Homo sapiens: one gene and its partners. The protein of the gene in region 1 purifies or fractionates together with the protein of each later gene. This does not show direct contact. Each region holds a gene or a part of one and is shown in the gene's direction. Other genes may lie near its edges.

Region 1 (4,877 bases):
GCCACTGCACTCCAGTCTGGGTGACAGAGTGAGACTCCATCTCAAAAAAAAAAGTCTTTTTTATTCAAGAGGGAAATAAAGCCAGTGTGGTGGCTCACGCCTGTAATCCCACCACATTGGGAGGCCGAGGTGCACAGGTCACGAGGTCAGGAGTTCGAGACCTGCCTGGCCAACATGGGAAACCCCGTCTCTACTAAAAACACAAAAATTAGCTGGGCCTGGTGGCACGCGCCTGTAATCCCAGCTACTCGGGAGGCTGAGACAGGAGAATCGCTTGAACCCAGGAGGTGAAGGTTGCAGTGACCCAAGATCAAGCCACTGCACTCCAGCCTGGGTGACACGGTGAGACTCCGTCTCAAAAAAAGAAAGAAAAAAAAAGAGGGAAATAAAAATGAACTAACTGGGGAAAAAAGTTTTGTAATTCAAAATCATTTGTGTCTCTTCCAAGTCTCACTATTCTGTGCCTCTCTCTTCATGTTCTGACCCGACATGCCCTCCAGACTCTTCTCCACTTACCTCTTCTTCCAAAAGGTGCACATGTACACACAGTGGGTGTGTGTCTTCTAAATCAGGATCTTGCCTGACTCTATTCTCAGACCCTCAGTCTTTCTCCATCAGCTTTACCCAAAAAACCAGAACAAAGGTGACAAGTCTTATTTGTGGTGTGTGTTCTATAGTTTGTAAAATGCAAGGGCAATTCTGGGTGTACAAGGGAAGGCCAAGTAGGCCATTAGTTACTTCCTCCCACAAATACTGCACACTGCCAGACATGGCAATAGCCAGGTACTGGGAATACAGACATCAGCTGGGTAGACTCCTCCCTTCCCTCAGCCATCCAGGGTCATTATTTTAAGTGATGATTACAAAGTTGTCAAATCACTCCTTCACTAATATGGCGAAAGTGTATTTCTGCATTATAAGAATGAGACAAAATCATTCTTTTTGAGATTTTTTTGTTTTCTTTTTGAGCTGGGAATCTCACTACGTTGCCCAGACTGGTCTTGAACTCCTGGGCTCAAGCAGTCTACCCATCTCAGCCACCTAGATAGCTGGGATTACAGGTACTCTCAGGTTTAACGCAAGGCTGAGAAAGGTTTTCTGTCAGGAAATCAAGGAAAGACGTGCGTTTCCTCCTGCTCTTGACAGGTGAACATTTATTAATTCTCTTTCTTTGCCACTGGGATCATTCAAATAGAGCAACAAAACCTGACAGAGCTCTGGGTCACTCTGCCTGAGCACCCACTGAGCAGAGTGTGATGAGTTGGGACTAACTTTTAACACTAACTACAGGTCCTGGGACTTTTATGCAGGCCTCTGACCATGGCCATTGAAGTAGGGGTCGCCTGTCCTCTGTGGCTTGATCAAAGGCACACAGGTACACAGGTGTGGCACGGTAGGGAGGAGGACAATGGAGGGGACAGGATTCGGACCAGCCCTCCTGAAGGCCAAGTCCTGGACAAGGCATTCCAATGAGGTGGGGGCGGGGAGTGTGGCCCTGACGCCTCCCAGTAGGGCGCCTCGAGCCCCCATCCCCGCCGCGGCTCGGGCTGCCCTGCCGTCCTGGGTCACAAAGGCGGTTGCCAGGCGCCACGAACAGCGGCCGCCACTTTGGAGCGTGAGACCCTCAGAGTTCAGCAGGTGAGCCCCGGGCCCGGATGGTGGGACTGGGCCCAGGTTCCCACCGCATCGTCCGCCTCAGCCAGAACCTTCTGGTCCCCGCCCCCGGATAGGGACCCAGGAGGCCCAAGCCCCTTCTTCCGGCGGGGAGTGGGAGCCTCTCGCACTCTCGGCAGCTCCAGACCCTCGGGATCTCCGTTTACAGTTCAGGACCTCAGCTGCACTTTGGCGCTAACGCCCTGTTTCCCAGGTGGGGAAATCAAGAGATGGGGTTCCTTGGAATGGGAAGTGGGGTGTGAAGGGGAAACCTTTTTGGCCAGGAGAATCAGGTGTTCCATATCTGGGAGCTATTGAGCAGCTTGAGCAGACTTTGTAGGTTCAAGCCCTTCTGGAGTGGTTGACAGTGACTTCTGGGCGGTGGGGATGGGGTGAACCATCTTTAAACTTTGTGCGAAGAGGTGCAGGGACCTAGGTTTAGAAGCGCTCTCGTCCCATGTTGGTTCTGCCGAATATTTAGGCTGACTCCTGACCTCAAGTGATTGGCCCGCCTTGGCCTCCCAAAGTGCTGTGATTGCAGGCCTGAGCCACCGCGCCGCGACCTAGGCTGGACATTTGACAAAGACTTTTACTTCTACCTCTACTTCCTCTTAGAAGATGTGGCAAGAAAAGGATCCGGGGGGCCCGGGCCCGGTGGCTCACGCCTGTAATCCCAGCACTTTGGGAGGCCGAGACGGGCGGATCACGAGGTCAGGAGATCGAGACCATCCTGGCTAACACGGTGAAACCCTGTCTCTACTGAAAATACAAAAAAATTAGCCGGGCGTGGTGGCAGGCGCCTGTAGTCCCAGCTACGGGAGGCTGAGGCAGGAGAATGGCGTGAACCCGGGAGGCGGAGCTTGCAGTGAGCGGAGATCGCGCCACTGCACTCCAGACTGAGTGACAGAGCAAGGCTCTGTCTCAAAAAAAAAAGAAAGAAAGAAAGAAAAGGATCCTGGGATTAAATACTTTTTTAAATCCCATATTCTGGGATTAAAAATATGCTTGACAGCATTCATACCCTCCGCCCACCTTGCCATGGTGGTGTACCACAGTAGTCCCTCTCTTGGATATGTGCTCTGAAGGTCAAGATATCAAGCACCAGAAGCCTTTCACAGGGTGTTTGGAATAGATAACTGTCCCTTGGGTGTCCCTTTCTCATTCTAAGGCAGCCCAGATATTTGAACACTTAGTACTTTGCAAAGAGCCTACATAGATCATGAGAAACATACTAGTTGGAGAAAATCAACAAATCCCCCTATACTAACCATTGTCAGGAGCAGGTCTTCTGGTCTGAAATGTCACCAACGTTTTTTTCTTTTTTGAGACGGAGTCTCCCTCTGTCACCCAAGCTGGAGTTCAATGGCTTGATCCCGGCTCACCGCAGCCTCCATTCAAGTGATTCTCCTGCTTCGGCCTCCTGAGTACCCGGGATTACAGGCACCCACCACCACGCCTGGCTAATTTTTGTATTTTTAGTAGAGACGGGGTTTCACCCTGTTGGCCAGGCTGGTCTTGAACTCCTGACCTCAAGTGATCCACCCACCTCGGCCTCCCAAAGTGCTGGGATTACAGGTGTGAGCCACTGTGCCCGGCCAACAGTTCTTTTTTTAAAACGAACTTTTCTATCTCACAAACGGCGGTGAAGGTGTCAAAATTTTCACAGTATTTCTGGGGCAATTACTGGATAGGATGAGATCTGCTGCTATCTTCTGTGGGAGAAGAAGGGGCAGAGAAATACACTTGGCTAGAAAGAAAAGGGACCTGCTATGCCCACTAACAAAATAGGTACGTGCTAAAAAAAATTAGCTTCTGAATTTAGTAAAACTTCTTATATACTGGCAATGTTGAAGGAGAATGATGGAAAATTCTAATTTTACTTGCATAAATTTTCAGTTAGCAATATCCTCACAGCCCTTTTTAATCTTCAAAGGAAAAAGAAAATTAAGGTCTTATGGAACCAGTAGGTCTTCCATAGATGGAAAACAAACAAATCAGAAAAACAAATTTAAAACCACACCCACACCTAGAAAAACAAAAATCTTTAACAGTTTTTTGACTGGACTTTGGAAGTGTTTTCTCCCAGCCTGGTGTAGCTCCTCTGAGGTGGTATATAAATAACCCAGGGGTCTGCAAGTTGCTCCCTTGTGCTAGAAAATGCAGAGGCCTTTGGGGCCAGGAGATGATCTCAGTAATGAATAGTGAAAGCTAGAGTTGTTTGAAAGGAATAGCATAAGAAATTCTCAAAATAGACAATGCAAGAGGGCTTATATAAATGCAGATTGCTGGGTCCCACGTGGAGTTTGTTCCTGTTGGTCTGAGGTGGGGCCCAAAAATGTGCATTTCTGCAAGTTTCCAAATGATGCTGAAGCTGCTACTACAGGGTTCATACATCGCGAACCTCAAAATATATATATATATATATATATATATATATATATATATATATATATATAATTTTTTTTTTTTTTTTTTTTTTAGATGGAGTCTTGCTCTTTCACCCAGGCTGGAGTGCAGTGGTGCGATCTTGACTCACTGCAACCTCCGCCTCCTGGGTTAAAGCAATTCTCACACCTCAGCCTCCCCACAGAGCTGGGACTACAGGCATGCGCCACCACGCCCGGCTAATTTTTGTATTTTTAGTAGAGACAGGGTTTCACCATGTTGGCCAGGCTGTTCTGGAACTCTGACCTCAAGTGATCCGCCCGCCTCAGCCTCCCAAAGTGCTGGGATTATAGGCATGAGCCACTGTGTCCAGCCACAAATATTTTTAAGACATGACTTTTCTGAGCTTCTTCTAATCTCAAGTAATAAGGTCTCATCATGAAGTCCCAGAAGCTTCTGTCACCTCAGAAGATAAAGACTCTGTCATTAGCAGCTAACAACACAGCATAGGTCCTAACAGTGGACCTATATTCATTTCAGACAAATCCATTGCCTCATCTATAAAATGGGTTAAGACCTACTTCCAAAGGCTTGTGAAAAAGTTTAATATAAAGTTTTAGTACACATAGCAGTTGCCAGATCAATACTTGTAATCATTCCCTACTTCCCTTTATTAGAATTACTAATATCTAGGCTGGGCGAAGTGGGTCACGCCTATAATCCCAGCACTTTGGGAGGCCGAGGCGGTGGATCACCTGAGGTCAGGAGTTGGAGAGCAGCCTGGCCAACATGGCAAAACTCTGTCACTACAAAAAAATACAGTGAGCCAAGATCGCTCC
Region 2 (4,188 bases), on another chromosome or scaffold:
CTCCGTCTCCAAAAAATAAAAAAATAAAATAAATATAGCGTTCAGATAGTATAGTAACAAAGTCCTATCTTTTTTTTTTTTTTTTTTTTGAGATGGAGTTTTGCTCTTGTTGCCCAGGGTGACGAGTGCAGTGGCGCACTCTAGGCTCACCGCAAAACCTCCGTCTCCCAGGTTCAAGTGATTCTCCTGCCTCAGCCTCCTGAGGAGCTGGGATTACAGGAATGCGCCACCACGCCCGGCTAATTTTGTATTTTTTTCAGTAGAGACAGGGTTTCTGCATGTTGGTCAGGCTGGTCTCGAACTCCCGACCTCAGGTGATCCACCTGCCTCGGCCTCCCAAAGTGCTGGGATTACAGGTGTGAGCCACCGCGCCCAGCCACAGAGTCCTATCTAACAAGGTGTTACCTGGAGAAGGCCTGCTGGCAACTTCATTGCAGAAGTAGGCACAAGTTCCCTCAAGTGTAAGGGTCCCTCAGGGTTTGTGCTTTTGTTGGTGGTGGTGGTGGTAGACTTCGTGAAAGCCACCACAGAAATACCGTGAAAGTAAAGTACCACCTGGGCACTGGTGCTTGTCAAGGAGTGGGCCAGGTCCCTCTTTTCTGTGCTTTCTGTGCACGGGCACCTGGTGCCCTCTTGTGGCCAAAGGCTATCACTACGACCCGCTCTATATGGACTTCAGGCAAAGGTCGATTTTAGGCTAGGAGTGCTGGGGAGGCTTGTTTTGAGTTCGGCTTTGGTTTGTTGTTTGGTGGGGTGTGGGGAGTGGAAGGTGTTGTCTAGCTAAGCCCACCCCACAGGCAGCAGTCAGTCTCACAGCCTCTCTCGTCACAGCTACCGGCTGTTTACCCGAGCCCAGCCCCGCGGGCCCTTGGGTGGGGATGGGTATAGTTGCAGAAACAAGCGGAAGCCGGTCTCTCTTACCACCCTCCGTGGTGAGCAAGGAGGGCTCCCCTCCCTGTCCATGGAGGGGCAGTGCTGACGCGATGTCCGGTATGGTTCTTAAGACCACCTGGCTCTCCCCACAGCAACAGCGGCGGGAGCGGGAGCAGCGGAAGCTGCAGGAGAAGGAGCAGCAGCGGCGGCTGGAGGACATGCAGGCTCTGCGGCGGGAGGAGGAGCGGCGGCAGGCGGAGCGCGAGCAGGTAGAGCGCCGCACCCGCATCCCTGCCCTCCCGCCCTCCCGCTCCTGCTGCCTGCCGCCCCTGCTCCCCGTGCCCTTCCCCCTTCTCTCCCCCACCCCCAGATTCCTCCTATCTTTTCTAGCTTCACTCTTTCTCTCTGTTTTCTCCCACCCTTCAACCCCAACCCTGACCCCCTCCCTCTTCCTTCCCTGCCTCATTCCCATCTCTTTACCCCATCCCTGACTCCCCGACCCCTTCCTCATCCCCCCTCATTCCCTGTGCCCTCTTCTTCCCCATCTGTGCCGCATGGCCCCCTGGGGCTCATGTCATCCCCTCCCCTACCTCTCTCTTACTCTTCCCCTGCACCCCCTCATTCTCCTGCGGATCCCTTCCTCCTTCTCCAACTCGCTGCTGCTGCCCTCCTCTGCCTCTTCCTCCTTCCCTGCCCTCTGCCCCCCACCCCACACCCCGTCCCCCAGGAATATATTCGTCACAGGCTAGAGGAGGAGCAGCGACAGCTCGAGATCCTTCAGCAACAGCTGCTCCAGGAACAGGCCCTGCTGCTGGTAACGGGTCCCTCAGCGTCCTCTGGGAAGATGCTTTTCAGAGCTTCTTTGCTGGAACGGGATGGGAACACTTCAAGGGAAGGGATTCACCCAGGACATCAAGGGAATACATCTCCTCTCTAGGCAGTTGGAGAAAAGAGAGGGCATGCCTGCTCTAACTCCCAGGGCCACACCCTGCTGAGCCCTCTCTCCCTACCCTTGGGCCCAGGAATACAAGCGGAAGCAGCTGGAGGAGCAGCGGCAGTCAGAACGTCTCCAGAGGCAGCTGCAGCAGGAGCATGCCTACCTCAAGTCCCTGCAGCAGCAGCAACAGCAGCAGCAGCTTCAGAAACAGCAGCAGCAGCAGCTCCTGCCTGGGGACAGGAAGCCCCTGTACCATTATGGTCGGGGCATGAATCCCGCTGACAAACCAGCCTGGGCCCGAGAGGTACTCACTGCCTCCTTTGCCTCCTGAGACTGCAGTCCCACTGCCTGAGGCCTGGAGAGCCACAAGAAGTAGTAGTTCACAGTAGCAGGCACCAAGTAGGGGAAAGGAGCACACAGCACAGAGCATAGGGCGGGAGTAGTTAGGGCAGGTGGGACCCTCAGTTTTGAGAACAGGGAGGCAAGAGCTGGCCTGCTTGACATCCCTTCACATCACAGGTAGAAGAGAGAACAAGGATGAACAAGCAGCAGAACTCTCCCTTGGCCAAGAGCAAGCCAGGCAGCACGGGGCCTGAGCCCCCCATCCCCCAGGCCTCCCCAGGGCCCCCAGGACCCCTTTCCCAGACTCCTCCTATGCAGAGGCCGGTGGAGCCCCAGGAGGGACCGCACAAGGTGAGTCTCTCCCCACCCCTGTCTTAATGAAGACACAGGGAGCTTTGTTCAGAGCACAGGTACACACACACGCGCGCACACACACACACACACACACACACCTGCTCAGCCGTGAGCCAGGATTACAGAGCACAGGCTTTGTGGACAGACTCACTCACCTGCTTCTTGCTGCCTGTGTCTGTCCTGACTTAGCTGTCATCAGGCTCAAGGAACCCCTTGTCCTTCAATGGAGGAAGGGGCAGCTAAAGTCCTTTCCCACCCCAGACCCCAATTCGCAGGTGGGGATGTGCCATGGAGCAGGCAGCCCACCCTCCCTGGTCTCTCCCTGCAGAGCCTGGTGGCACACCGGGTCCCACTGAAGCCATATGCAGCACCTGTACCCCGATCCCAGTCCCTGCAGGACCAGCCCACCCGAAACCTGGCTGCCTTCCCAGCCTCCCATGACCCCGACCCTGCCATCCCCGCACCCACTGCCACGCCCAGTGCCCGAGGAGCTGTCATCCGCCAGAATTCAGACCCCACCTCTGAAGGACCTGGCCCCAGCCCGAATCCCCCAGCCTGGGTCCGCCCAGATAACGAGGCCCCACCCAAGGTAAGGACAGTTCTGCAGGCCCAGGGAAAAGCAGAGAGCTAGTCATGAAGAGAAGGAGGGCAGTGAAGGGGCAGGCCACATGGAGGAAGAGTGCAGGGCGGGAAGCGAGAGAAAGCCAGGGCGCTGCCCTGCCGGGGTCAGCCGTCCAGCTGAGGACGCGACGTGGAGGGGTGGCATCGATCCCTGTGGGGAGCGTGGGAACGGAGAAACGCCCAGGGTGTTTTGGGAGCGCTAAGGGGCAGACTTTGCCAGTTAGAACCGCAGCTCCACCATCATCCGGCTTCATAACCCTGGACGTATTCACTAACTCCCCTGAACCTCAGTTTTCTCATCCATCAAAGTGGGGGAGCTCACCTCTCAGAGGTGAGGCTTAAACATCTGAGAAGTGCCTGTCGCAGCGCCAGCTCGCAGCACGTGGACTTCTCTCCACAGGTGCCTCAGAGGACCTCATCTATCGCCACTGCCCTTAACACCAGTGGGGCCGGAGGGTCCCGGCCAGCCCAGGCAGTCCGTGCCAGGTAATGCCTGGGTAGGGCAACGCCTGGGTGAGGTCTGAGGGCAGCCTAGGGAGTAGGGGGGGCACAGGGACTTTACCAGCCTACCCGCCTGGGGGTGGGAAAGCCCCAGCCCCATCACCTCAGCGCCCCCCCGCCGCCCCCTCGGCACCCCTGTGCTCCCTTCACAGACCTCGCAGCAACTCCGCCTGGCAAATCTATCTGCAAAGGCGGGCAGAGCGGGGCACCCCAAAGCCTCCAGGGCCCCCTGCTCAGCCCCCTGGCCCGCCCAACGCCTCTAGGTAATAGAGTTGTCCCCCAACTCACTCTCACCTCTCACTTCTGCCACCCGCTTCCCTGGTGATGGCTCCCTCTGCAGTGCAGCTCAGCACCCCAGAGAAGGGAGCACCGTGCCTCCCTGACCCTGACTCTGCCCCCCCAACAGTAACCCCGACCTCAGGAGGAGCGACCCTGGCTGGGAACGCTCGGACAGCGTCCTTCCAGCCTCTCACGGGCACCTCCCCCAGGCTGGCTCACTGGAGCGGAACCGCGTGGGAGGTATGTGAGCCAGGGCTGGGCAGCCTGCTCTGGGCCTGGGG
Region 3 (4,856 bases), on another chromosome or scaffold:
ATTTAAATTTTGGTTTAGTTTGGGATTGGTGCTGGATTTTAGGGAATAATCTTATCAGGGCTGGATTATTCTAGTTAGTGATGATCTGAGGAAACACTGCATTTCTTCAGATGGAAGAAGGGAGCACTGGCAGCTTGCTTTTTCTGAAAGCTTTGATTACAGAAGTATAGGTCCCTGATGCTTAAAGGGACCTTACAGCACATCTGATTCAACTGCCTTTTATAGGTGAAGAACTGATTCCTGTTAACCTGATAACATAGAAATTGCCTATCCTATTTTGTGAAAATCATCCTACTCTAGAAGTAGGAAATAATGGAGTAGGAACCTGGGCACTAAATTATAGTTGTTATATTATTAGGACTAAGTGTGTATGTCCACGGGCCTGACAGAAATGAATGCTCTGGACCCCATCCACTTGCCTTTCATTTGTTCCTGTGCCCTTTTTTCATACAAAGTGGATGGCCTCTTTAGGTTTCCTTTAGGAAATGTGTAAGTGCCTACAGGCCTTTGTGCTCACATTAAAATAATTTTTTTTGTTTTTATTTTTTGGAAAAATAACTTAAAGTCTGCTCAGAGACAGCTCAATTTCTTTATTTTAAAAATGGGATAAGACACACTATTTTTAGATGGCATTTGTGACTATCCAAATGAACAATGTAAAGTACTTTCAAAAATAGTGCTTTGTCAAAGAAACAAGTTATTCTATTTACTTTATGTATGCATTCCATTTATTTCTTCAGCAAATATTTATGAAGCACTTACTAGCATGATCACAATTTCAGTTAAATAGTTAAGTACAGTAGTCCCCCCTTTATCCATGGGTTCATTTTCCACATAATTATTCAATTTAATTATTAGTTATTGTTAATCTTTCACTGTGCCTAATTTATAAATTTAACTTTATCATATATATGTATAGGTAAAAACATAATACACATACATAGGTTTCAGTACTATCCATGGTTTGAGTCATCCACTGGGGATCTTAAAACATATCCCCTTGGATTAAAGGGAAATACTGTAATTAATTGCTTACTGCCTGTATCAGTCACTAGAATTCCAGCTTTCTGGGAAAAGGTACTTCTTCTCTTTTGTTCTCTAATGCTCAGCACCCTGCGTGGCTGGCATTTAAAAGACTAACAAATATTTGTTGAATGGATGGATGAATGCATGAATGAAAAACCAAATGAATAATGAAAACAAAAGTGTATAATACACTATAACACGTACTATATTGGGCTTGCGTAGTACTATGGGAATCTATAGTAGGAGCATTTAAAGCCAGCCTTGACGGGGCTAATCTCCGGAAGAGCAATTAATCTTTTCAAAATCCGACTCTTGCAGGATACGGTCCCCCACTGGCCTGCCACTAGTTTAAAACGAATTAGTTTCTGTGAAACATCAGGATCGTGCCAATAGTAGGGGACCAATAAGACTGAATAAGTCAAAGGGCTGCGCGGACAAGTCCAATTAGAACACCTCTGGCTAAAAGCCAGAATGAATGAAAGGGTTCATGCCTCGGCGTAGACACACAACTGGGACTGAAAAATCTGCCCCAAGCCTCCACGTCGACTTTGGCTCCACCTGCAGCGGCGGCGCCGTAGTCACGTGACCCGGGCCCCCGCGCCCTAGGCGCCTGGGCCAGCCTGCGCCTGCGCAGTACTCGGAGACAGCGGACCCGTGTCAGTGACAGCTTCCGGTTTGGTTTCTCCGCCTTCTGCTTGGCTAGAGCTATTGGGGCTCGGTGGCGGCCGCAGTGGGGTGGAGGGGGCAGGGCGTGGTGAGGTAAGGTGAGTGCCGTAGTGGGGTTCCCTGGAGCCATGGCCTGCTCCATTGTCCAGTTCTGCTACTTCCAGGACCTCCAGGCCGCCCGGGACTTCCTCTTTCCTCACCTGCGGGAGGAGATCCTCAGCGGCGCCTTGCGGAGGGACCCCAGTAAGTGCCTCTCTGGCCTCGCCCTTCCTTCCCTCGTCACCCGCGGCCTCTGCTCACGGGTTCGAGTCTCCTACTCGCTCTGCGCCTCCTGCCTCTGCCCTCTGGACCCCCAGTTCTCCCCGTGCCTCCCCTCCGCTCCGGGATGACACCCTGCCCACCTCGTCCTGAAGCCCCATTTGTGTTGTCTTCCTCTCGACCCAGCTTTTCTCCTTAGGCCCTCTGACCCCTGGCTAAAAACTGCGTCTTGTTTCCTCTCGCCTCTGCCTATCACCGCTTTCTCCCTCCCTCCCCCCACCCCCACACATTCCTAGCTTTCTCTCTGAGTATCTTCTCCGTCTCCCATCTTCAGCCTGGGGTCGTTCCCTGTTTCATGTTGCCTGCTCCGTGATCGCATCCTCCCCGTTCCTTGCCACATGTCAGCGCTCCACTCTGGTATTGCCCCAGCTCCCACTCTCTTCCATCCCGGAGACTGTGGCCTTCTGCTACCTCCCATTCCGAAAGTGTTGATCATCCCCCCACACTCTCCCTTCTTTCATCTGCATTTCCCCCATTCAGATTTTGAGAACAAATGGCTGACAAATGAGTGACTCTTGAGGTAAGACTCTCTCAAAGAAGGAAAATAACCTGTCAGGAAGTGAACGAGAATCTACATTAGGAACTAAAATTACAGTGACATAGCCAAGAAAGGTTAATTTGCTTTATTGAAGCCTTCCACCTATTTTTATCATCAAAGTGTTTAATAAGCCTTTCCCCAAGTAGTATAAAGTTCCAAGGCTGGTTTATTAGATACTATATAGGCTTTCAGAATTTCGTACATTTCATTTTGAAAGGGTGTGCCTTGTGTTTTATTTTATTTTATTTTATTTTATTTTATTTTTGCATTTCCAACCTGAAGCACATTTGGCTTTGTAGTACAGCGCTCTCACTTTGTGCTATACCGGAATGGTGATATAAAGCCCACTAAGCTCCTCTCCCTTTTTTAGAAAATTTAGAAGATATCAAATCGAACCCATCTGTGAATGATTGCATACTTTGTGCCAGTCATTGGTGCTACAAACCAAATAAGGTTGGTGGACCCTGCTGTAGGAACTTCTGGTTTACAGACAAATCATTAACTTCCATTCAGTGTGACTGAGATATACATGAGGCATTTTCTTGAAGTGGTGATACTTAAGCCTACCTTTGAAGTACTAGTTAGAGGAGTAAAGGAGCAGTAATAGCATGTGCAGAGGAAGGGAGGCCTGAAATGGCATGGTATTTAGAGAACTAAGAAAAGCTGAATGGCTGGAGAGGAGGATGGGAGAGGAAGAGTTGGGGCAATGAGGCAGTAGTAGTAATAAGGAGCTAGACCATGAGAGGCCTTGTGAAAATTGTGGCGTTTCTCTGAAAGTTTAAGTAGAGAAATGACATTGTCAGATTTGTACTTAATGTAATCAACAACATTTGTTGAAGACCTGTAATGTGCTCTGGTAGCAAAGTGGAGGAGAGATTGGAAGAAGGGAAATGGATTGGGAAGCTCTTCCAGTAATCCAAGCAAGAAATTATGTGAGCTTGAATTAAGAACCTTAGTAGGATGAAGATGAAGGACTAGATTAGAAAGACGTTAAGGAGTTAGAATCTGCAGGACCTTGTGAAGGTCTGGTGATGGGCATTGTAACTAGTAAGTGAGGGGGAGTTTAGGAAGTCTTTGGCTTGTGGTTTGGGCAACTATATGTAATAAGAGAATGAAGGATACAGATTTTCAACCTTTTGCATTTTAAATGTTTATGGTATGTCCAAGTAAGGACATCTGGTTGAACACCAGATATAGATAGTCTAAACAGTAGGGAGTACTGGGCCAGAGATGTTAATTGGGGAGCTAACAGCAAAAAGTGTCAGTTCAGTCTCAAGGATTATGTATGTTGTGAAATGCACTGAGTACTAAAGCTGTAAGCTTAGAGGAGCACTGGTGTTTAAAAGTCAAGTAGAGGTTACTGGGAAGAAGACTGAGAAGGAGTAAAAGAAAGAGGAAAATCATGTGAGAGTAAGGCCCTCGGAGCTGAGGAAGGCGAGAACTTGATGAGGGTGAGGAATGGTCAGCAGTTTTGCAAATGCAGCAGGGGTCAGGTAAGAAAAGGATAGAAAAATGCTTATTGGTTTTGAGAAGGTGGAGGTAACTTGGACCTTAGGACAGTTTCAGTAGGATAGTGGAGGCAGAAAGCATAGTTATAGGATAAGGGGTTAAAAAGTGAAATATACTATTTCAAGGAGCTTGGCTGTGAAGGATAGCAGATGCAGGATTGTAGATAGGGAATGTAGAAAAAAGGAACAGATTTTCTTTATCCTTCTACCACTCTCCTGGTCCAGGCCACCATCTTTTCTCAACCTGGGCTATGATATGATATGTGTCTTCTTCTAGCAATTCTTCCTGCTTTTGCTCTTGGTTTCCTGTAATAATTCTCAACAGTAGTTACAGTGAGCTTTTAAGGCATAATTTAGATCACAACATTGCCTTTTTTTTTGAGATGAAGTCTCACTCTGTTGCCCAAGCTGGAGTGCAGTGGCATGATCTCAGCTTACTACAACCTCCACCTCCTGGGTTCAAGTAATTCTTCTGCCTCAGCCTCCTGAGTAGCTGGGACTACAGGCATGCGCCACCATGCCCGGCTAATGTTTGTATTTTTAGTAGAGATGGGGTTTCACTATGTTGGCCAGGCTGGTCTTGAACTCCTGACCTTGCGATCCACCTGCCTTGGCCTCCCAAAGTGCTGGGATTACAGTCATGAGCCACCACACCCAGCCTAACATTGCCCTTTTAATAACACTCAATGGTTTTTGATTGCACTTAACGTAAAATCCAAAGTTCTTAAATGGTGTATAAGGCCCTTGAGACTCTGCTTCCTGCCATTTCTTGGACCTTATACACCTCTCCCCTTATTTCT
Region 4 (4,188 bases), on another chromosome or scaffold:
AAAAGTGTCAGCATCCTACAAGTTACAGAAAGAAAGATTGTAGATTACCATCAGGAAGAACTCTGTAACTGTCAGAGCCATCTAAAGATGAAAACGTTTGACCTGGAATGATGTGAGTTCCCTACCATTAGCCACTGGCCAGCTGATAAGAATGTATTAGCACAAATTAAAGTGTTACATTGCATAAGATAATGTACGTGACAACTTGCTGTTGTATCTTTGATATTAAATCTGAAAACCAGTATTCTGAAAACTTCAGTGTGAGATCATGCTGTATTATCAAAAGAATTCCCAGAAGGGAGCAGTAGAAATCCATAAACTGAAAGAAAATAGATATTCTTTCCCAATCAACAGCTGTTTTCTCCACCTACTGTTGGAAATTATATTCTTTTTTGTGATATCAGGTGCATGGGATGCATCTTTCTTTGCCATCCTAATGAGATGCTCTAGAGAGAGTGTAATTTGCCTTAACTTGAACCTTGATTGCTACTCTGTGATGATTGCTCTTAGAATGCTTCTGGCATATATTCATGAAAGATGGTTGGGAATCAGAGACTTAAAGAGAAAAGAAAAGTAGATTTTTAGGATTTAAATGGACAGTTGACAGGAAAGTCATAGACTCATTTTCTTCCTGTCCCTGGAGTTCTTCAGAGCAGCATTGGGAAAATGTCCAAAACTGTTTATCAAATTGTCAGAGGCATTTATGAAACCTCAAGGTGCAAATCGACAGAATTATCTTTTAAAAATAATTCACCCTTTATGCATGGGCAGGGTGCCTGTAAAAGTCATTGGATTTACATAACCTTGAAGATCCGTTCCCTTGTTTCTGCTGCTTCCTGTGTGTATTTCTCCTTACTGCTGCTCCTAGCTACATGGGTTAGGAGGTTGATATGAAAGGCCATAGTAAAGTTCTTTAATTGGCACACCTGGGGAGAAACTGAGCTGTGACCATCTGAATCTTGCTCTATATTCTTTTCCCAGGTGTATCTGTCTTGTGAGTCCCTTCATCTGGCCTTTCTTCCTCTGCAGATTTAGTTATGGTGTCAGTGCAGAAGTATACCCATGCCCAGCTCCCTGCATGCTATTAGATTGTATTCTGATGATATCTAGGTGCTTGTGGGATATCTTGTGCCCACAGCAATGGCCTGTTCATCTGAATGCTTAATAAGAGTTTATATTCAGTCCTGTAATAGACCCATAGTTGCTATAAACATGAATAAGGTAGGGAGTGTTCTAAACAAATAATTAACTTCAGGCTAGTATATCTTATGCTGAATGCTGATTTTAGTAAAGATTTTACGGACCCTTTTTCTTTATTCCTTCACTGTTAACTACTTATACAGTGTTATCATAGCCTCAATTAACATTGAGCCACCATTTTGTCATCTTTAGTTTTTGAACTGTCATGTGGAAAATGAAATCCTAAAATTGAATCATGATCTGTGCCATACTTTCTCTTCTCCCTATATAGAACTGCAGTGATTTTATCTTCTTGGAGACTGATAAGTAGTTTATTGCCTTTTTTTTTTTTTTTTTTTTTTGGTGAATTCACAGATTTGTCCAGTCATTGTGCCACAACATTCAAAGAAGATGGATTATGGACTTACCTCAATCAGATTGTGGCCTGTTCCCCTTGGGTTTTATATATCTTGATGCTAGCAACTTTCCATTTCTCATGGTCAACATTTTTATTATTAAATCAACTCTTTCAGGTATTTATTTCTCTTCTTATAATGGCTTTGAGTAAAATTTCTAAAACTTGTAGTGAGACAGCCTTGAATTTAAAATCAGAAGATGCACATTCTGTTTTTACCTCTGTCACTGACTCTGTGGGTCTAGCCATGTCATTTAACCACACTTGAATTTCAGGTATTTTGTCTGTAAAATGAGGATAATAACGCCTGTCTACTACATTAAACCACAAGATGGTTTAAAGGTTAGCATAATAAATTATTAGAGTATGACCTAGGAGTTACCTAATCTGACCTCTTTATTTTACAGATAGAAGTACAGAAAGGTAAATTGAATTGCTCAAGGTCACCCAGTGTGTGGCAAAATCAGAACTGGAAACTTAGGTCTTCTGCCAGTCCCATTCAAGGGCTTTTTCCATTGTACAGTTAAATTATATGTTGTGTGTAAGCATAGTATAAACTGTAAACCATCATGCAAATGTCAGATGATTGTTTTCCCTCAGTTTTTCCAGCGCTGTTTGTTACCCTTATTACTATGCAGTGTTTAAATGGATGAGAGTGGTAAGAAATGAAAAATACATCACTAACCAGTGGTCATAGTAATTACATTTTCAGAGAAGGCCATGGCCATTAGAAAGTTCAAGCTCCAGGGCAGTAGTCACCTTCAGCTTTCTCCAAAGCTTTAGTCCCTTCCCTGCTGGCTTCCATCCCCTATGAGCCTAACCTAATTCTCATTATTGCTGTGTCCTGCCCATGTGGAATGGGCAGCAGGTGGTCATCAGTCTGAATCAATTACTGTAAGACCTCAGATAATTAGAGCATTACTCAACCAAAGCAAAGTATATTCCACTTTTATGGGAAAGTAATCAATCTCAAAATAATAATAATGATAATAATAACAAGAAGAGAAGGAGGAAGGGAGGGAAAAAGAAAGAAAGAGAAAAAAGAAAATGTTTAGGGATGAAACTGAGTTAATAATATTGACTAAACTGAGGTTTCCGAACATTCCTCTCACTCTCCTATCACTCTGACTTCAATAGACTCCAGCAGCAAGAATAGATACTAGCATCTGTGATTATTAGTATTATCATTTATAATACCTAGTATTTATAATGCTTTGAGACATTGTTTCTAATTATCTTTCTTTTTTTCTGGAATCTTAGAATAAGTACAAGTATATGAGATGATAATATCCTTAATTTTTTAGAAAAAGGTCAATAAGGCAAAAAATGGACTCAAAGTTTCAGATAATTTTCAAAAGGAAGAATTCAGAACAAAGCTGTTTTCTTAATGAACAAAACAATCCAGTTCTTCGGAAACGTTCATTTCCTGAGCGCTCTGGGTAGTCGTGGCTTTGACTGTAGCAAGTCAAGATGAGTGTCTAGGTTGTTGGTTAGGAGCATGGCTTTATTCTCACACTGACCAAGGAGTCAGTCCCAGCTCTCCCACTCTAAGCTGTGTGGCTTTGAATCAGTTACTTCATCTCTCTAATCCTCTGCATTAGGTATTTGATTTTATTTACTTATTTATTTATTTATTTTTTGAGACAGAGTTTCGCTCTTTCACCCATGCTGGAGTGCAGTGGCGGGATCTCGGCTCACTGCAACCTCCGCCTTCCCGTGTCAAGTGATTCTCCTGCCTCAGCCTCCCAAGTAGCTGGGATTACAGGTGCCCACCACTACGCCCAGCTAATTTTTGTATTTTTAGTGGAGACGGGGTTTCACCACGTTGGCCAGGCTGCTCTCGAACTCCTGACCTCGTGATCCACCCGCCTCGGCCTGCCAAAGTGCTGGGATTACAGGCGTGAGCCACCGTGCCCTGCCGCAGTTAGGTATTTTAAATAGACTATCTCAAATCCTTAAAATAATATGATGAGAGTGGTATGATGAGCTGCTTTACAGATAAGGAATTTGAGGTTTAAATGAGATAACTCTGTGAGTAGTTATGGTTTTTAATGATTTAAGAATTTTTAAGTTACCTTAATTCTCAGTCTTCCCCATGTTTTTGGAATTAAATGTTCTTTACTTCTGATTAACTTTTTCTTTGTCCCTTTTCAAGGAGATACTAAGGAGAACACACAAATTGAGATAATTGCACTGATACTGATCTTATATTGTTTTATTTATCTAAAAGTTGCACACTGAATGTGTGCAACCTTCCACCCTTCTTTTTCAGATTGCCTTTCTGGGCCTGACCTCCCATGAGAGAATCAGCCTGCAGAAGCAGAGCAAGCATATGAAACAGACGTTGTCCCTCAGGAAGACACCATACAAGTAAGCGAGACCTGTTTTGGATGCTGAGTCCTGTGGAAGATCCCTAGTCACTGGTTTCCTAAGCTGGTGCCACTACCCATGGCCATGCTGCTGTTCTGTAATTTGCCATCTAGTACAGTTGACCCCCCTTTTCTTAGAGAAGCTTTAGTGATGGGGTGAGTGGTAAAGTCGTGAGCCCCACGGTGGTAAGAATTCGAGAGTTAGTTTACTGGACACAGCACAAA
Region 5 (3,429 bases), on another chromosome or scaffold:
TTAACTAGGGAAGCCAGAAGCTTGAACTAAAGTTTTAAATTTGTAGGCAGATGAGAACTTTTATACTATGGTTGCTTTGGGCGATTCTAATTTTGTAATAGCATCATGATCACCAAAATTAATTCAAACATTTTAGTACATCTTTAATCTGTCTTATTTACCAAAGTTCTAATCTGTTTAAGAACAGGATGCCAAGAGCATCTTTCATTTTATAGAATGATATGCTCACCTTTATAAGTGTCACCTAAAAGCTTGAGGGTAAAAAAGAAGCAGCCCATATATCTAAACTACAGGATGTCTTGAACAAGATTCACAGAAAGAAAGAAAAAAAAGCAGTTCTTTCCAGGAAGGTGGTAAGGAAGAGCATGCATATTTCTTGTTTTAACCAAATACCTTTTTTATGTAAATGTCTCTATTAAACCCCAGGTCCTACACCAGGAAATAGGGTGATAACCAGGAAAATACCAAGCTTTAACCCAGTTGGCAGTTCCTTGTGGCATACATTTGGTTAGACTTGGGTTTTTCCTGGAACCAAAGGAAAATAAGCATGTTGAGTTCTTCGTTCAACAGACATGACATTGAAGTAATAGAATATTTTTTAAGTAAAATAGTTTTCACTTTCAAAGCCTATGACATAAGGACATTTGTGCTTATTAATTGTTAATTTTTTTTTATGGTACATTGTATAAACTGAGTAGCATTGAACTGCATTTTAGAAGTATGTCATCAGAAACAAATCACATTATGGAAAGGATATACAAATGCCAAGTGATATGACTCTTTTGGCATGGTGGTAGCATGGTCCATTCAGCTTTCAGAATCTTTCGGAGGCTCTAGTTTGGTGCCTAGTACTAGTTATTTTTGTTAGAACAATCTCTCAAAATTTAGATAATTTTCCAGTTGTATGTCTGTCACTTTTAACTCTAAAGCGTAAGAATCATGGTAACCCTCTCAGAAGTGGTCCTTTCTTGCTCATTTCAGTTTCGTATTAACTTCAAATCACTGATGTATTGTCTTTCAAGCTATCAATTGTTATATGTACCAATTTAATTTAGTTTGTAGTTATCTGAAGTCACAAAATTGGTTCAGCATTGATGTCAAACAATGGCTTTGCTTCTTACCAAACAGACTTAGTATCCTGCTGCTTGTTTCAATCTTGATGCAGTAAGTGATGCAGTATCTGGGTCTGTATTTACTTAGAAACTGTACTGTCCTTTCTCTGTGCTTAACTTGCTAAAAATATATTCCCTTACCTGTGAAATTCCTGAGCGGTGCTCTGCCAACTTTTCAAGGGGAGGGATTTGGATGGCTGTGTTACTGCACACTGGATCTGGAATTGTTCAGGGTTATGAGTGACAAATTTCTTAAACACCAGCAGCACTGAGATGTGCACTATGGGCATTCGTACAGTTGTTGTCCAAATGCAAACAACTTTTTCATCTTGGAGAAGCTGAGATACAGAGTTCAATAGAACTACTTGGAATATTTTGAGAAGGTTGAATGTTTCATCTTTGGCTTTGTTGTCTCTGGAGTGGGGAAGTATGGAGGGCTTTTTTTTTTTTTTTTTTTTTTTTTTTTTTTTTTTTTAAAGAGAGTGTGTATGTACTTTTTCTCTCTATAAGGGCCAGGGTGTTGGTCAAATTCACCATCGATTAATTTATATCTTCTGTTGTGATTTTTTTCAACTATATAACAAGTGCCAACTAATTGTCCATGGGACAATCTACTTTTCCACTCAATTTATCGTTTTGAGTAGGGAAAGGTTCATTTATTTTCATTACCTGGCATTAAGTTAAAGAATTCATTATTTTGCATACATTTGAGTCATTCTGTGACCTATAAAGTGTTTTTGTAACTATCTAATTCTAATGGTTGCAAAGCAAAGCACATGACTGTAAAACCAAGCAAGGTGTTTTAGTAACTTTTTCCCTGAATACTTGGTAGTTTCCATTGATACTATTCCAAAACAAATTCTGCTGTTTTAGGTTGTATATTTACTTTGCTTTTGTTCTAAGAAAAAGCCAAGGACTAAATCAACTTGTTTTTGTGTTTCAGTAATCAGTTTAAAATCTAAGATTTTTTTTTAAATTAGACTATTTAATGAAGTGCCATGTAATTGTAGCTTGCTAGTGTTTAATGTTTAATAGACTGGTTCTGTAGGTGTTTTAACCATTTAACACTCTCTGCCATCCCTGGAGAAAGTGGTTCTACTCTTACTGAACACATTCTCTCTGACAAAATCACCAGCTGCTTTATTTTTCTATTTATTACAGTTAAACAGTTGATGAGGTCTGAATCTTGACCAAAACTGCTCAGCTGAGATGTTTTTCACAATAGACACTGTACAAAGTGTGCGTGCAAAAGGACACGGTTGGTAGTATTTTTTCATTAATGTGAACATTGACTAAAAAAAAGCAGTCCTGCCTTTTAAATCTTGTGGCAGCTCAGAAGGGAGGTGCTTAAGAACCTTAACTACTATGTCAGATAACAAAATATTTTTTTCCATTTTGGAGATTGGTTACTGCTCACACATGATGTATAGGGCTAAATATATGCTTGTTTCCTTGCACCTGTGTACTTCCCCTCTCTCCCTCCCTTTCCTTCCCCTGTAGGCAATAAATGGCCATTTTGCAACTGCATACCTTTGTCTTGGTTTTTGACTCTTTATTTGTGCAGTATAAACCTCTGCTTTTAGGTTGATACGTCTCTTCTAAAGTGAAGTAGGGAGCCAAGATAATTCAGGGCAAAATACATAATTACAAATTCATGCTACATTTTTTTTTCTGGTGAAAACTACATTACTAAGTACATTGTTTAAAAAAAATTCTGAAGCTAGTTATATGACTTGCTTTGCCCGAAGAAACCAGTGCAAAGGGATATATGTCACTTCTGAGTGGAACTTTAAGGGCCAGTCTTTAATTTGCCATATTTCCTTTTCTTGCCTGTGTGATCATAGAAGTATATGTTGAGATGAAACCTCTCATTCCAGATCCTTAAGTGACTTTGTTGAAGAGAACTCCCCTGCTGTCCTTTGGGCATGTAGCGTAATAAACAACTGCTAAATCTCAGTGTGTTAATACAATAAAGTTGTGTTATTAGGGCTTAATTTAGTTGATCCTGACTGACAGACAACCACCAGACAGATTTGCTGAGTTATCAATATTGAAGAAACTCAACAGCTGGACCTGCTAAGATCTCAAGTAAATTCATTCAACAAACATTCAGGTATCTTCTGTGAACAAGGTGCTGTGGGCATATTAAGATGAAAGACATCTTTATAATGCCTATCCTCCAAGAATTCATATTCCAAATACTCCTTATGACACAGAAGATATTCCAGTGTTTCAGTCAAAGTAAAGATATCTTAAATCATAGAATCTTGGAAAGAGAGAGAGAGAAGGCACATAGTGAAATAATTAGGAATTCTGC

Evidence for each region.
Region 2: the proteins of FANCD2OS (region 1) and MINK1 purify together in Homo sapiens (affinity purification with mass spectrometry; one large-scale study listed by BioGRID and IntAct). This does not show direct contact.
Region 3: the proteins of FANCD2OS (region 1) and RAB3GAP2 purify together in Homo sapiens (co-immunoprecipitation; one large-scale study listed by IntAct). This does not show direct contact.
Region 4: the proteins of FANCD2OS (region 1) and ZDHHC13 purify together in Homo sapiens (co-immunoprecipitation; one large-scale study listed by IntAct). This does not show direct contact.
Region 5: the proteins of FANCD2OS (region 1) and CNOT6L purify together in Homo sapiens (affinity purification with mass spectrometry; one large-scale study listed by BioGRID and IntAct). This does not show direct contact.

Annotation. Positions count from the first base shown.
Region 1 is NC_000003.12:10,105,005-10,109,881, reverse strand, and holds the start of FANCD2OS (FANCD2 opposite strand protein), read left to right. Parts: upstream 1-1,626; 5' UTR 1,627-1,867; intron 1,868-3,344; exon of another isoform or gene 3,345-3,422; coding exon of another isoform or gene 3,423-3,441; intron 3,442-4,877.
Region 2 is NC_000017.11:4,888,622-4,892,809, forward strand, and holds part of MINK1 (misshapen-like kinase 1), read left to right. Parts: intron 1-1,025; coding exon 1,026-1,142; intron 1,143-1,600; coding exon of another isoform or gene 1,601-1,687; intron 1,688-1,895; coding exon 1,896-2,114; intron 2,115-2,329; coding exon 2,330-2,503; intron 2,504-2,834; coding exon 2,835-3,095; intron 3,096-3,527; coding exon 3,528-3,613; intron 3,614-3,780; coding exon 3,781-3,891; intron 3,892-4,034; coding exon 4,035-4,147; intron 4,148-4,188. UniProt on the Homo sapiens protein: Serine/threonine kinase which acts as a negative regulator of Ras-related Rap2-mediated signal transduction to control neuronal structure and AMPA receptor trafficking.
Region 3 is NC_000001.11:220,269,302-220,274,157, reverse strand, and holds the start of RAB3GAP2 (rab3 GTPase-activating protein non-catalytic subunit), read left to right. Parts: upstream 1-1,704; 5' UTR 1,705-1,820; coding exon 1,821-1,935; intron 1,936-4,856. UniProt on the Homo sapiens protein: Regulatory subunit of the Rab3 GTPase-activating (Rab3GAP) complex composed of RAB3GAP1 and RAB3GAP2, which has GTPase-activating protein (GAP) activity towards various Rab3 subfamily members (RAB3A, RAB3B, RAB3C and RAB3D), RAB5A and RAB43, and guanine nucleotide exchange factor (GEF) activity towards RAB18.
Region 4 is NC_000011.10:19,168,857-19,173,044, forward strand, and holds part of ZDHHC13 (palmitoyltransferase ZDHHC13), read left to right. Parts: coding exon of another isoform or gene 1-111; exon of another isoform or gene 112-112; intron 113-1,554; coding exon 1,555-1,712; intron 1,713-3,866; coding exon 3,867-3,964; intron 3,965-4,188. UniProt on the Homo sapiens protein: Palmitoyltransferase that could catalyze the addition of palmitate onto various protein substrates. Palmitoyltransferase for HTT and GAD2. May play a role in Mg(2+) transport.
Region 5 is NC_000004.12:77,712,597-77,716,025, reverse strand, and holds the end of CNOT6L (CCR4-NOT transcription complex subunit 6-like), read left to right. Parts: 3' UTR 1-2,639; downstream 2,640-3,429. UniProt on the Homo sapiens protein: Has 3'-5' poly(A) exoribonuclease activity for synthetic poly(A) RNA substrate.